4 linked regions of the Homo sapiens genome follow. The protein of the gene in region 2 interacts with the protein of the main gene of each other region in a biochemical or structural test. Each region holds a gene or a part of one and is shown on either strand. Other genes may lie near its edges.

Evidence for each region. The genes of interacting proteins can lie anywhere in the genome.
Region 1: the proteins of CHEK2 (region 2) and PPP2R5B form a complex in vitro, tested with the Homo sapiens proteins (one study listed by BioGRID).
Region 3: the proteins of CHEK2 (region 2) and PPP2R5E form a complex in vitro, tested with the Homo sapiens proteins (one study listed by BioGRID).
Region 4: the proteins of CHEK2 (region 2) and SIAH2 form a complex in vitro, tested with the Homo sapiens proteins (one study listed by BioGRID).

Annotation. Positions count from the first base shown.
Region 1 is NC_000011.10:64,927,689-64,931,188, forward strand, and holds part of PPP2R5B (serine/threonine-protein phosphatase 2A 56 kDa regulatory subunit beta isoform), read left to right. Parts: intron 1-113; coding exon 114-215; intron 216-377; coding exon 378-470; intron 471-606; coding exon 607-737; intron 738-2,633; coding exon 2,634-2,693; intron 2,694-2,792; coding exon 2,793-2,901; intron 2,902-3,500. UniProt on the Homo sapiens protein: As the regulatory component of the serine/threonine-protein phosphatase 2A (PP2A) holoenzyme, modulates substrate specificity, subcellular localization, and responsiveness to phosphorylation.
Region 2 is NC_000022.11:28,728,321-28,731,820, reverse strand, and holds part of CHEK2 (serine/threonine-protein kinase Chk2), read left to right. Parts: intron 1-1,272; coding exon of another isoform or gene 1,273-1,401; intron 1,402-3,500. UniProt on the Homo sapiens protein: Serine/threonine-protein kinase which is required for checkpoint-mediated cell cycle arrest, activation of DNA repair and apoptosis in response to the presence of DNA double-strand breaks.
Region 3 is NC_000014.9:63,393,378-63,396,877, reverse strand, and holds part of PPP2R5E (serine/threonine-protein phosphatase 2A 56 kDa regulatory subunit epsilon isoform), read left to right. Parts: intron 1-161; coding exon 162-292; intron 293-1,592; coding exon 1,593-1,652; intron 1,653-2,949; coding exon 2,950-3,058; intron 3,059-3,500. UniProt on the Homo sapiens protein: The B regulatory subunit might modulate substrate selectivity and catalytic activity, and might also direct the localization of the catalytic enzyme to a particular subcellular compartment.
Region 4 is NC_000003.12:150,740,625-150,743,397, reverse strand, and holds the end of SIAH2 (E3 ubiquitin-protein ligase SIAH2), read left to right. Parts: intron 1-699; coding exon 700-1,257; 3' UTR 1,258-2,273; downstream 2,274-2,773. UniProt on the Homo sapiens protein: E3 ubiquitin-protein ligase that mediates ubiquitination and subsequent proteasomal degradation of target proteins.

The DNA of each region.
Region 1 (3,500 bases), on a different chromosome or scaffold from region 2:
AGAGCGAGACCCTGTCTTGGGAAAGAAAAAAAAAAAAAAAGCTTTGAATGAGAGACTCCCTGGCTTCTGTCTTCAAGGGCTTTTCCTTAATGAACCCCAACTCTGCCACTCAGATCTCAGTGAATATCTTCCGGACTCTGCCGCCCAGTGAGAACCCTGAATTTGACCCTGAAGAGGATGAGCCCAATCTTGAGCCTTCGTGGCCACACCTGCAGGTCTGAAGGGTTGGGGAAGACAGAGATCCAAGTTTCAGAAGAGATCCAAGGCATGGGGAGAGGGCCTCCTTAGCCCCTAGACAGTTGGATGAGGGCCATAGGGTGGAATGAGTGGGTGAGGCTGTTACTGAACTCACCTTTTTGTCTGTCCCCCTCCCCCAGCTGGTATATGAGTTTTTCCTGCGTTTCTTGGAGAGCCCAGACTTCCAGCCCTCCGTGGCCAAGAGATATGTGGATCAAAAGTTTGTCCTGATGGTGAAGTGGGGAGCCCAGGCTGGGTGGTACCACAAGGCAGGGGCAGGCTCTCTGAGGGGCCAGGGATAGGATGGAAGCAACCTGGGGTGGACCTTTCCCCTGACCCTGACCCTGACCCTGACTCTGGTTCCCACAGCTCCTGGAGCTATTTGATAGTGAGGATCCCCGGGAGCGTGAGTACCTCAAGACCATCCTGCACCGGGTCTATGGCAAGTTCCTGGGTCTCCGGGCCTACATCCGCAAACAGTGCAACCACATCTTCCTCCGGTGAGTGGCTGCTGCCTGCCCAGCAGAGACCTGGGGAGGGTGAGAGGGCTGTTAGAAGACTGCGGCAAAGGCCATGTGCGGTGGCTCACACCTGTAATCCCAGCACTTTGGGAGGCCGAGGTGGGTGGATCACCTAAGGTGAGGAGTTTGAGACCAACCTGGCCAACATGGTGAAACCCCGTCTCTAATAAAAATACAAACATTAGCCAGGCATGGTGGTGGGCACCTGTAATTCCAGCTACTTGGGACGCTGAGACAAGAATTACTTGAACCCAGGTGAAACCCCGTCTCTACTAAAAATACAAAAAATTAGCCGGGCGCGGTGGCGGGCGCCTGTAGTCCCAGCTACTCGGGAGGCTGAGGCAGGAGAATGGCGTGAACCCGGGAAGCGGAGCTTGCAGTGAGCCGAGACTGCGCCACTGCAGTCCGCAGTCCGGCCTGGGCGACAGAGCGAGACGGATGAACCCAGGAGGTGGAGTTTACAGTGAGCCGAGATCATGCCACTGCACTCCAGCCTGGGCAACGGGGAGACTGTGTCTCAAAAAAAAAAAGAAAAGAAAACAAAAAAAAAGAAGACTGCAGCAAAGGCTCCTGGGCTGCAGGGGCCCTTGTAGAACTTCTGTTTTCCAAGCCCTTTCTCAGTAACGTATTACATATTGATTATACAAAGCCTGTGAAGTTGACAGAGAATGGGTATTTATTTCCATTTTACAGATGAGAAAGTAGAGGCCAAGAGAGATGAAATGGTTTGCAGGGACTGGGTCAGTCCAGGGGCCTAGGAGCTAAATCATTTGACCCTTATCATGCCAGGCCATAAGGACCCAGAGAGAGATTCTTTCTGCAAACATGCACTGAGCACCAGCACCCACTGGGCATCAAGGCTCACGTGGCCTTGTAGTTGAGACCATGGCTCTGAAGCTGTATGGCCTACATTTGAGTTTGGTTCCAACGTTTGGGTGAACTTTGGCAAATTACTTAAGCTCTCTCCTAGTTTGCTCGTCTTTAAAATGGGAATGCTGGCTGGGTGCAGTGGCTCATGCCTGTAATCCCAGCACTTTGGGAGTTGGAGGTGGGCAGATCACTTGAGATCAGGAGTTCAAGATCAGCCTGGCCAACGTGGTGAAACTCCGTCTCTACTAAAAATACAAAAATTAGCTGAGTGTGGTGGTAAACACCTGCAATCCCAGCTACTCAGGAGGCTGAGGCAGGAGAATCGCTTGAGCCTGGGAGGTGGAGGTTGCAGTGAGCCAAGATTGCGCCACTGCACTCCTGCCTGGGCGACAGAGCGAGATTCCATCTCAAAGATAAGATAAAAATGGGGATGCTGCTTGTACTAACTCAGGGACCATTATCGAGGTGACATGGGGCCTTGCCTGCAAAGCACTCAGCATAGCTCCTGGACTGAGGCCGGGACTCTGAAACATTAGTTGTTATTAGCTACAAAATGGGTGAGCCATGATCCCTGTCCTCCTGCACCTTGGAGTTCATTAGATTCCCTGCCTATTAACATTGGGGTTGTTTTATTTAACCGCTGAGTCTTGATTTCTTCATCCATGTGATGGATTTCTTAAGCCCCATCTCCCTGGATAATTCTGAGACTTACATGGTACGGAGTAGATGTGCTAAGTGTTTGTCATTCTCTTGGTTGACTGGCAAGAGAGCCTTGAGCTTGGGACTCAGTGGCAGAGGTGGCTGGGCTGAGAAGGGCATTTCAGTGTGGGGGGGCGGGGATCTCAATGGGGCCTGGTTTGGGATGTTGGGAAGGGAGCGCAGCCTCTGGGTTGGGGGAGAGTTGGATGAGCGTGCCGTGCAGGTGAGGGTGGGCAGGCAGGATGCCTAAGGGGGCACTGGGCCTACCCTGCTTGCTTTGAGCCCACCTGCGTTCTTCTCTTGCAGGTTCATCTATGAATTCGAGCACTTCAATGGTGTGGCTGAGCTGCTGGAGATCCTAGGAAGGTGATTCTCCCTGGGCCTCAGCTGGAGCTCAGGATTCTGGAAGGAGGGACTGGGGCCAGGTCACCTGAGCCCTCTTCCTCTCTTCTGCCTCCTCCTCAGCATCATCAATGGCTTTGCGCTGCCCCTGAAGACGGAGCACAAGCAGTTCCTGGTTCGCGTCCTGATCCCCCTGCACTCTGTCAAGTCGCTGTCTGTCTTCCATGCCCAGGTGAGGCCCAGGCCTGTCCCTGCTGCAGCAGGAGCTCCAGACAGTCAGGGCAGCCAGTGGGTCCTGGAGGTCAGATCCTCCAGGGATCCTATCTCACCTTCTTTGTCTTTATAATTCTGTTCCATCTACCTTAGAAAATTCCCACTGGCGCTTTAAGGCTAACCTCAGATATCAGCTCTGTGAAGCCAGGCTTTTCTTCTCTACCCTCCCTTGGCAGAATTACATTCTTCTCCATCTATATTCCCAAATATTTGGATACACAAATCTATTATGGGAGATTTTGATACACAATTTTTTTTTTTGAGACAAAACCGTACTCTGTTGCCTCAGCTGGAGAGCAGTGGTATGAACATGGCTCACTGAAGCCTCTACCTGCTGGGCTCAAGCAGTCCTCCCTTCTCAGCCTCCCGAGTAGCTGGGACCACAGATGTATGTGCCACATGCCTGGCTAATTAAAAAAAATTTTTTTTTTGTAGAGACAGTGTCTTGCTATGTTACCTAGGCTGGTCTCAAACTCCCAGGCTCAAGTGATTCTGCTGCCTCGGCCTCCCAAAGTGCTTGGATTACAGGCGTGAGCCACCACACTAGCCATATTATGG
Region 2 (3,500 bases):
TGCAGGGGCTCTCAACTGTAATCCCAGCTCTTAGAGCAGCAGAGGTGGGAGGATAGCTTGAACCCAGGAGTTTGAGACCTGCTGGGCAATATAGCGAGACCCCATTCTCCACAAAAAGGAAAAACAAAAAAAGACAAGTAAACAAAGATCCTGATAGGATGACCAGCATAAAGTAGGTGCTGAATAAATAGAGACTGTTTATCATTATTATTATTATTATTATTTGAGACGGAGTCTCACTCTGTCACCCAGGCTGGAGTGCAGTGGTACGATCTTGGCTCACTGCAACCTCAATCTCCTGGGTTGAAGCCATTCTCCTGCCTCAGCCACCTGAGTAGCTGGGATTACAGGTGCCCACCACCGTGGCTAAGTTCTGTATTTTTTAGTAGGGACGGGTTGTCATCATATTGGCCAGGCTGGTTTCAAACTCCTGACCTCAGGTGATCTGCCCGCCTTGGCCTCCCAAAGTGGTGGGATTACAGGCGCGAGCCACCACGTCTGGCCGAGGCTGTTTATTATTATTATTTGTTAATTATTTATACCTATGTTTTCTTTTAAAATTTTACAGTTTTAATTCCTTTTTTTAAATTTTTGTTTGTTTGTTTGTTTGTTTATTTTGAGACAGGATCTCACTCTGTCATCCAGGCTGGAGTGCAGTGGCACAATCTCAGCTCACTTCAGCCTCTGCCTCCCAGGCTCAAGCAATTCTCCCACTTCAGCCTCCTGAGTAGCTGGGACCACAGATGTGCACCACCACTCCCAGCTAACTTTTTGTATTCTTGGTGGAGATGGGGTTTCATCATGTTGCAGTCTGGTCTCAAACTCCTGAGCTCAAGCAATACATCCATCTTGGCTTCCCAAAGTGTTAGGATTACAGGCATAAGCCACAGTGCCTGGCCTAGTTTTAGCTCTTATGTTTAATTAAGGTCCTTTATTCATTTTAAGTTTTATTTATTTATTTATTGAGACGGAGCCTTGCTCTGTCACCAGGCTGGATTGCAATGTCATGATCTCGGCTCACCGCAACCTCCTCCTCCCGGTTTCAAGCGATTCTCCTGCCTCAGCCTCCCAAGTAGCTGGGATTACATGCTTATGCCACCATGCCTGGCTAATTTTTGTATTTTTAGTAGAGATGGGGTTTCACCATGTTGGCCAGGCTGGTCTCGAACTCCTGCCCTCGGGTGATCCACCCGCCTCGGCCTCCCAAAGTGCTGGGATTACAGGCATGAGCCACCGTGGCTGGCCTAACTTTTTTATTTTTATTTTTTGTAGAGACAGAGTCTGGCCATGTTACCCAATCTGATCTTGAACTCCTGCTGTCATCTGATCCTCCTGCCTCAGCCTCCCAAAGTGCTGGGATAAGAGGTGTGAGGCACCATCCCCGGCCAGTTTGCAGTCTAAGTATGATGTTAGCTGTGGGTCTTTCCCTTTCCCTTTCTCTTTCCCTTTTCCTTTTCCTTTCCCCTTTCCCCTTTCTTTTTTCCTTTCCTTTCCTTTCCCTTCTGCTTTCCTTTCCCTTCCGCTTTCCTTTCCTTTCCCTTCCGCTTTCCTTTCCTCCCCTCCCCTCCTCTCCTCTCCTCTTTTCTTTCCTCTTCTCTCTCCTCTTCTCTCTTCCTCTCTCCTTTCTCCTCTGATATCTGAAGACTAAGCTGTGGATGTTTCATAAAAGTTCTTTCTGGGGTGGGTGCAGTGGCTCATGCCTGTAATCCAAGCACTTTGGGAGGCTGAGGTGGGCGGATCACAAGGTCAGGAGATCGAGACCATCCTGGCCAACATGGTGAAACCCCGTCTCTACTAAAAATACAAAAACAAAATTAGCCGGGCGTGGTGGCAGGAGCCTGTAGTTCCAGCTAGTTGGTGATAGAGTGAGACTCTGACTCAAAAGAAAAAAAAAATGCTTTCTGGCTGGTTGCTCTGACTCTTTCACCCTATAATCTCAGTGCTTTGGGAGCCTATGGCAGGAGAAGTGCTTAAGGCCACGAGTTGGAGACTGCAGCAAGCTATGATTGCAGGCCACAGAGCAAGACTTTGCCTCTAAATTAAAAATAAATAGATAATAAATAAAATAAAAGCTCTTTATTAGGTTGAAGGAGTTTACTCCTATTCCTAGTTTTCTGAGTATTTTTTGTTATAAAAGGGTGTTGCATTTTGCCAAAATTTTTTTCTGTGTCTATTTTCCTATATTCTATTGTTATCGTGTATTATATTAATTGGTTTTCAGATGTTAAACCAACCAAGCTTTCCTGGGTTAATTCTTTTTTTTTTTTTTTTTTTTTTTTTGAGATGGAGTCTCGCTGTCGCCCAGGCTGGAGTGCAGTGGCGTGATCTCGGCTCACTGCAGGGTCTGCCCCCTGGGGTTCACGCCATTCTCTTGCCTCAGCCTCCCGAGTAGCTGGGACTACAGGCGCCCGCCACCTCGCCCGGCTAATTTTTTGTATTTTTAGTAGAGACGGGGTTTCACCGTGTTAGCCAGGATGGTCTCCATCTCCTGACCTCGTGATCGCCCGCCTCGGCCTCCCAAAGTGCTGGGAATACAGATGTGAGCCACCGCGCCTGGCGTCCTGGGTTAATTCTTGTTTGGTCATTTGTAATCTTTTTTATGTGTTGCTGGATTTAGTTTGCTACTGTTTTGTTGAGGATTTTTATATCTATATTCACAAGGGATATTGGTTTGTGGTTTTACTGTGATGTCTCTGTCTGGTTTTGGTATGCTGGCCTCATAGATGAGTTGACAGTGTTCCGTTCCGAATTTCTTCGAAAAGTTTGAGAATAATTGGTATTAGTTCTTTACATATTTGATAGAATTTAAAATGAAGCCAGCCGTGTGTTTCTTTTTTCTTTTTTTTGAGACAGGGTCTCACTCTTACCCACGCTGGAGTGTTACCCACTATCACGTTTCACTGCAGGCTTGACCTCCCAGGCTCAACTCCTACCTCAGCCTCCTGAGTAGCTGGGACCTCAGGCATGTGCCACCATGTGTGGCTAATTTTTTTATTTTGATAGAGATGGGGTGTCCCTATGTTGCTCAAGCTAAAGTGAGGCAATCTGGGACTGCACTTTTCTTTGTAGGGATATTTTGATTACTCATTCAGTCTTTTGTTTTGTTTTGTTTTTTTGGAGACAGAGTCTCTCTCTCTGTCACCCAGGCTGGAGTGCAGTGGCACAATATTGGCTCACTGCAGCCTCTGCCTCACAGGTTCAAACGATTCTTGTGCCTCAGCCTCCAGAGTAGCTGGGACTACAGGGGCGCGCCACCACACCTGGCTAAATTTTTTTTTGTTTTGTTTTTAGTAGAGACGGGATTTTGCCATGTTGCACAGGCTGGTCTCAATCTCCTGAAGTCAAGCAATCCGCCTGCCTTGGCCTCCCAATGTGCTAGGATTATCATTCAGTCTTTTCACTTCTTATGGGTATATTCAGATTTTCTGTTTCTTCTTGTGTTAGTTTTGGTAGTTTGTATCTTTCTAGGAGTTTGTCCATTTCACCTATGTCATCTAATA
Region 3 (3,500 bases), on a different chromosome or scaffold from region 2:
TTGTTTATCATGATATGCCCAAAGACTAGCACTGTGCTTGGCACATAATAGATATTCAACACATTTTTTGAGGAAGGAAGAAGGGGATTTTAAATAATAGAATTCCTAAATCCTTTTCTGAAACCGCCTTTGACAGCTATAATGTCTTTCATTTACAACAGCTTCTGGAGCTATTTGACAGCGAAGACCCTCGGGAACGGGACTACTTAAAAACAGTCTTACACAGAATTTATGGCAAGTTTCTTGGTCTTAGAGCATTTATCCGAAAACAGATTAACAATATTTTTCTAAGGTAAGTGGAGTGTGATGGGGGAAGAAGGAGAAGCAAAGTTGGTGTTTTTATGAGTATTAAGTAAATCTCAAATATCTGAAAACGGTGTACTGACTTCTCTTTCTCCCTTTCTGCCTGCCTTCCTTCATTCTACTGACTCTCCTGCCTCTTCCTCTACCCCCTCCCCCTCCTCTCCTCCCCCATCTTCTCCTCTCCTCCCCCATCTTCTCCTCTCCTCCCCCATCTTCTCCTCCCACCCTCCTCTTCCTCCTCTTTTCCTCTTCCTCTCCCTCCTCCCCCCACTGCTTCTTCTCTATCCCTCCTCTCCCCCTACTTTCCCCCTCCTCTTCCCTCTCCCCTGCTTTTCTCCTCCCCCTTCTCCTCCTCCCCCATCTCCTCCTCCTCTCCTCTTTTCCTCTCCTCTCTCCTCCTCCTCCTCTATCCCCTGTCCTCCTCCTTTCTCCCTCCCTCTCCTCCTCTCCTCCCCGCTCTCCTCCTCTCCTGCCCCCTCCCCCTTCTCCTCTTTTCCTCCCTCTCCTCCTCTCTTCCCCCACCTCTCCCTCCCCCATCTTCCCCCTCCCCTCTCTTCCCCCCTTCTCCTCTCCTCCCCCGTCTCTTCCCTCCTTTTCTCCCCCTCCCCCTTCTCCTCCTCTTCTCCTCCCTGTCCTCCTCTCTTCCCCCACCTCTCCCTCCCCCATCTTCCCGCTCCCCTCCTCTCTTCCCCCCTTCTCCTCTCCTCCCCGACTCCTCTCTTCCCTCCTTTTCTCCCCCTCCCCCTCCTCCTCCTCTCCTCCTCCCTCTCCTCCTCTCTTCCCCCCATCTCTCCCCCGTCTCCTCCTCTCTTCCCCCCTCCTCCTCCCTTTTCCCTCTGCTCCTCCTCCCTTCCACCCTCTCCTCCCCCCTCTTCTCCCCTCTCTCCTCCGCTCTTCCCTCCTCTCCTCCCCCTCTCTCCCCATCTTCTCCTCCCTCTCCTCTCTTCCCCCATCTCTCCCCCATCTCCTCTCTTCCCCTCTCTCCTCCTCTCTTCCCTCCTCTCCTCCTCTCTTCCCTCCTCTCCTCCTCTCTTCCCTCCTCTCCTCCTCCTCTCTTCCCTCCTCTCCTCCTCCTCTCTTCCCCCCTCCTCTCCTCCTCCTCTCTTCCCCCCTCCTCCTCCTCCTTCTCTCTTCCCCCTTGTCCTCCCTCTCCTCCTCTCTTCCCCGCTCTCCTCCTCCTCCTCCTCTTCTCCTCCTCCTCCCCCTTCTCCTCCTCCTCCTCCTCTTTTTATCCCTTCCTTCTCCTCCTCCTCTCCTCCTTTCTCCTCCCTTTTCTCCTCTTCTCTCAGGTTTGTTTATGAAACAGAACACTTCAATGGTGTAGCTGAACTGCTGGAAATATTAGGAAGGTGAGCACGGTTTTTCTAATTGCTAATCTCAGATGAATATTATTTTAAAAATTAGGTTCAGGTGGCACCAAGAGATGCTCACCTAGTTCTCTTGCTGTATGTACATTGGGTCTCTCTCATTTGTGCCTATTAGCATATTTTCCAGCTGACTCTACAAGACACAATTTCCTGTTCCCCTTGTTCCACAAGTATGCATTGCCATTTCCACTGGAATGACTGAAAGAGCTGACAGTTCATTCATTACTAGAAAGATGGTACATCTAATTGTGGTCAGGCTAGTTACTCCAAAACATCTTATTCTCATTAGTTTTTAGGCTATCTGGTCCTTTGCCTTATCTGTTGAAAGCAAGTTTATAATAAATTGGAAAGATTGCCATTTTCAAAGGAGTTGTGTATCCAGGTATAGTCCTTGAACAGCTGCAGCCTGGAGTAGTGGAATGAATTGGAAAGAGCTGTGGTGTAAGTTTCTACACACAAGGGAGGATAATGTAGCTGGACAATATGATTACTTAATCTTTTCTCCTAATATGAAGAGAAAAAGAAGGTGGAGTCACATGGCTTTCTCTCAGTGATTTCCCTAGGCTGGGCAGAGGTTTCAGGAATGAGAAGGAATGATGTCTGGAAATGGAAAAGGTCATATTTAAGGCGGAAGCAAGCAAGGCGGGCCATTATTTGGAGAAGGAAAAGGGAGGGAAAATAAAGGGTTTTGATAAAGAGCTTTTGGAAACCATCTGACTAATTTTAGGAGCACAGGAGCCTTTGTTGGGTGACCAGAAGCAAATTTTCTTCTCTTAAATTTCCTTCCAACTTTTTGTATTCCTTGAAGTCATTAAGAAATCCTGGCTGGGTGTGGTGGCTCACGCCTATTATCCCAGCACTTTGGGAGGCCAAGGTGGGCAGATCATTTGCAGTTAAGAGTTCTAGACCAGTCTGGACAATATGGTGAAACTCCTTCTCTACTAAAAATACAAAAAAATTAGCCAGGCATGGTGGTGGGTGCCTGTAATCCCAGCTACTTGGGAGGCCTGAGGCATAGGAATAGCTTGAATCCCGGAGGCGAAGGTTGCAGTGAGCTGAGATTGGGCCACTGCACTCCAGCCTGGGCAATAGAGCAAGATGACTCTGTCTCAAAAAAAAAAAAAAAAAAAAAAAAAAGGAAATTCTGAATGCCACTGGGGTGGGTATTATGTTGTTTTGTACAAACAAACTGATTAAGTTTAATTAATATCACAAGAACAGTTTGTCTCAGTTCAACTTGTGGTAACATTGCTAATTTGTGTCTCTTTTTTCTCCCTAGTATTATCAATGGCTTTGCTTTACCTCTTAAGGCAGAACACAAACAGTTTCTGGTGAAAGTATTGATCCCTTTACACACTGTCAGGAGCTTATCACTCTTCCATGCACAGGTAGGAGGATTTTGTACAACTACTTTTAGAAGCAAAATAAAAAGTTTGCAAACTCGTTTTTTTGATATTGATATAACCTTCATTTTGTTTTTTTGGTTTTTGTTTTTTGAGACGGAGTCTTGCTCTGCCGCCCAGGCTGGAGTGCAGTGGGACAGTCTTGGCTCACTGCAGCCTCCACCTCCCGGGTTCAAGCAATTCTTCTGCCTCAGCCTCCCGAGTAGCTGTGACTACAAGCGCACGCCACCATGCCCAGCTAATTTTTGTATTTTTAGTAGAGACGGGGTTTTACCATGTTGGCCAAGATGGTCTGGGTCTTCTGACCTCATGATCCGCCCACCTTGGCCTCCCAAAGTGCTGGGATTACAGAGGTGTGAGCCACGGCGCCGGGCCTATCGCCTTCATTCCCAAAGGAAAGAGACTTACTTAAGTTTAAAATACTCCC
Region 4 (2,773 bases), on a different chromosome or scaffold from region 2:
GTTAAGTAGCTCTTGGATGTGATTTCCTTCCACCCAAAAAATATGGGCAAAGCCCCCCAGAGGGAAGGTCAAAAGGATGCAGTGGGGTAATATTTCTAGCTGTATGAAGGGGTCTCCAGGCCTCCGCTGCCCTAGCCTGGTGATGCCAGCAGCAAAGAGCAAGGAACCAAAGGGCAGCCTTCCCCACGGCCTGCCTGCCAGTCACCAGTTTGAGCCAGAAAGCAGTGGAGGGGGACGACAGAATTATACTGTTGTTAATATTGTCTATATGTGAAAACTAATCTTGGGATAATATAATATTCCTTGCCCAACCCCATCCCCACCACCCAAGCAATTGAATTCTTTAAAAAACAGCTTCACAGAAAATATGGGGAAGACCAGCTTTTATAGGGCTTGCTCAACAATTTTGAGATGTGCACAGTAAGAGAACTTTAGTTCTGATCCCTTTGACAGCGGAACAGGGGGCATGGAAAACAGCGTATTTCTGGTTCAGGAAATACCCTTCATTTTATGCATGACAGCATTGATGATGAATAGAGACGGAGACTTTTAGTCTTGAATATTTCACTTGCTTTGAGCAAAAGTAGTTAAGAACACAGTTTAAGCCCAGGAAAATGGAGTAGTTAAGTACTCATAGAGGGTTGAAGCAATAGAAGTTTTGAGAAGGCCCAATGGCTCAATGCATTTCTTTCTTTGCAGTATGCCACCACGGGCTGTTCCCTGACCCTGCACCATACGGAGAAACCAGAACATGAAGACATATGTGAATACCGTCCCTACTCCTGCCCATGTCCTGGTGCTTCCTGCAAGTGGCAGGGGTCCCTGGAAGCTGTGATGTCCCATCTCATGCACGCCCACAAGAGCATTACCACCCTTCAGGGAGAAGACATCGTCTTTCTAGCTACAGACATTAACTTGCCAGGGGCTGTCGACTGGGTGATGATGCAGTCATGTTTTGGCCATCACTTCATGCTGGTGCTGGAGAAACAAGAGAAGTACGAAGGCCACCAGCAGTTTTTTGCCATCGTCCTGCTCATTGGCACCCGCAAGCAAGCCGAGAACTTTGCCTACAGACTGGAGTTGAATGGGAACCGGCGGAGATTGACCTGGGAGGCCACGCCCCGTTCGATTCATGACGGTGTGGCTGCGGCCATCATGAACAGCGACTGCCTTGTTTTCGACACAGCCATAGCACATCTTTTTGCAGATAATGGGAACCTTGGAATCAATGTTACTATTTCTACATGTTGTCCATGATGTGACTTTCGTAAACCTTCAAAATTATTTGGGCATAGTGCTCTATGTTTAATAAAGGTTTTTATAGATGTTTTATTCCATATGTCTTCACAAGTCAGGACCCACAATTACCCGTGTTTTGTTTGAACAGCAGTGTCCCATCTGGCTTCGACCCAACAAAGTTCATTAACCTGGGATGAATGGGGTTGGCCTGTTGGTGATTTGGATGCTGTTCTGTGATCTAAAACAACTCTTATTGAATTGTATTTACTCCCTAAACAACACTTGACAGGCTGTTGCACAGGGCTTCTATAGATCAGTGTGTTAGGAATGGGAGGCCCCTTCCTGCCTGCCTTCCCATATTGGTCCCTTGACATTGACAAAAGCACAGTGACTGTCAGCAGATTCCTTTACTTTTGTTTGTGGGAGGTAGGAATTGTTTTAATGCATTTTAAACAGTGTTTCTGAAATTGGATGGCTGGCTAATAGACACTGAATCACCCGGAGTGCTTATCTTAAAATTGCAGATTTAGGGAGCCTGCCAATTTAACAGTCTCATCAGGTGATTCTTTTCAACAGTAATGTTTGAGAATTACTGGGTTAAATTGTGGGAAAGGGTCCAGATTTTAAAGGTGCTTTAAGGTTGCCCTCTGCCGATACTGTTTGTCTTTCTACTGTTTCATCCCCTAACTTCCCCCAACCCTCAAATTAAAACTAGAACTATAGATCCACATGAACGCACGCCTGAGATTTGGCCACTCACCTATGTTTTGGGTGGATTGCCTAGGAAAGCAAGTCATATGGCCATTGATAGTTCTCATGTAATTAGTTTTGCTCACCACTAGTACAGATGACCCGTTTACACGTGGCTTCCCTCGGAAGCCCTCCTCAACAGTAGCTGGTGTGAAAGACTAAATCAGTAGAGTTGGAAAAGCTTTATAACCGGTGTGTCATATGCTTGCTATTTAAAGCTGTGTGTTGGTTTTGTTTTTCTGCCACATTCACTAGTTTTTTAATAAATATTTTCCAAAAATGGATATTGTGCTTCATTTCCCTAATTGAGTAATGGGTATTTATTGAGCATCTACTGTGTGCAAGTGCAATGAACCTTCGTCACTACATCTGGGGTTGGAACTTTCACTGTTTGTTTCCACTGTGGAAACAGTCATTGGGCCAAGGTCATGGCACGGGTCCATGACAGCACTGGGGTCCGGGCTCATGTGTCTGAACCACTGACTGTCAGTGCTGCAGGTCTCCTCCCAGGGCTGTCGTTTCTATCTGACAGTGCCAGTACCTGTGCAATAAGAGGATTGCTCCAGCTTTACAGAGTCAGAAGGAAGACGCTTGGCCACTGCTGACATCCAGAGTGCTGGCGTTGATCCAAGCTGACCCACTCCCTCAGTCCCAACCCTAAACTCTCAAAAGAATTTAGAGGATTAGGGCCAAATGCTCAGCAAGGATTGAAGGCTGCTTACCTCAGTGTCCCAATTTCTTTCTTTTTTTTTTTTTTTTTTTTTGAGACAGAGGCTGGAGTGCA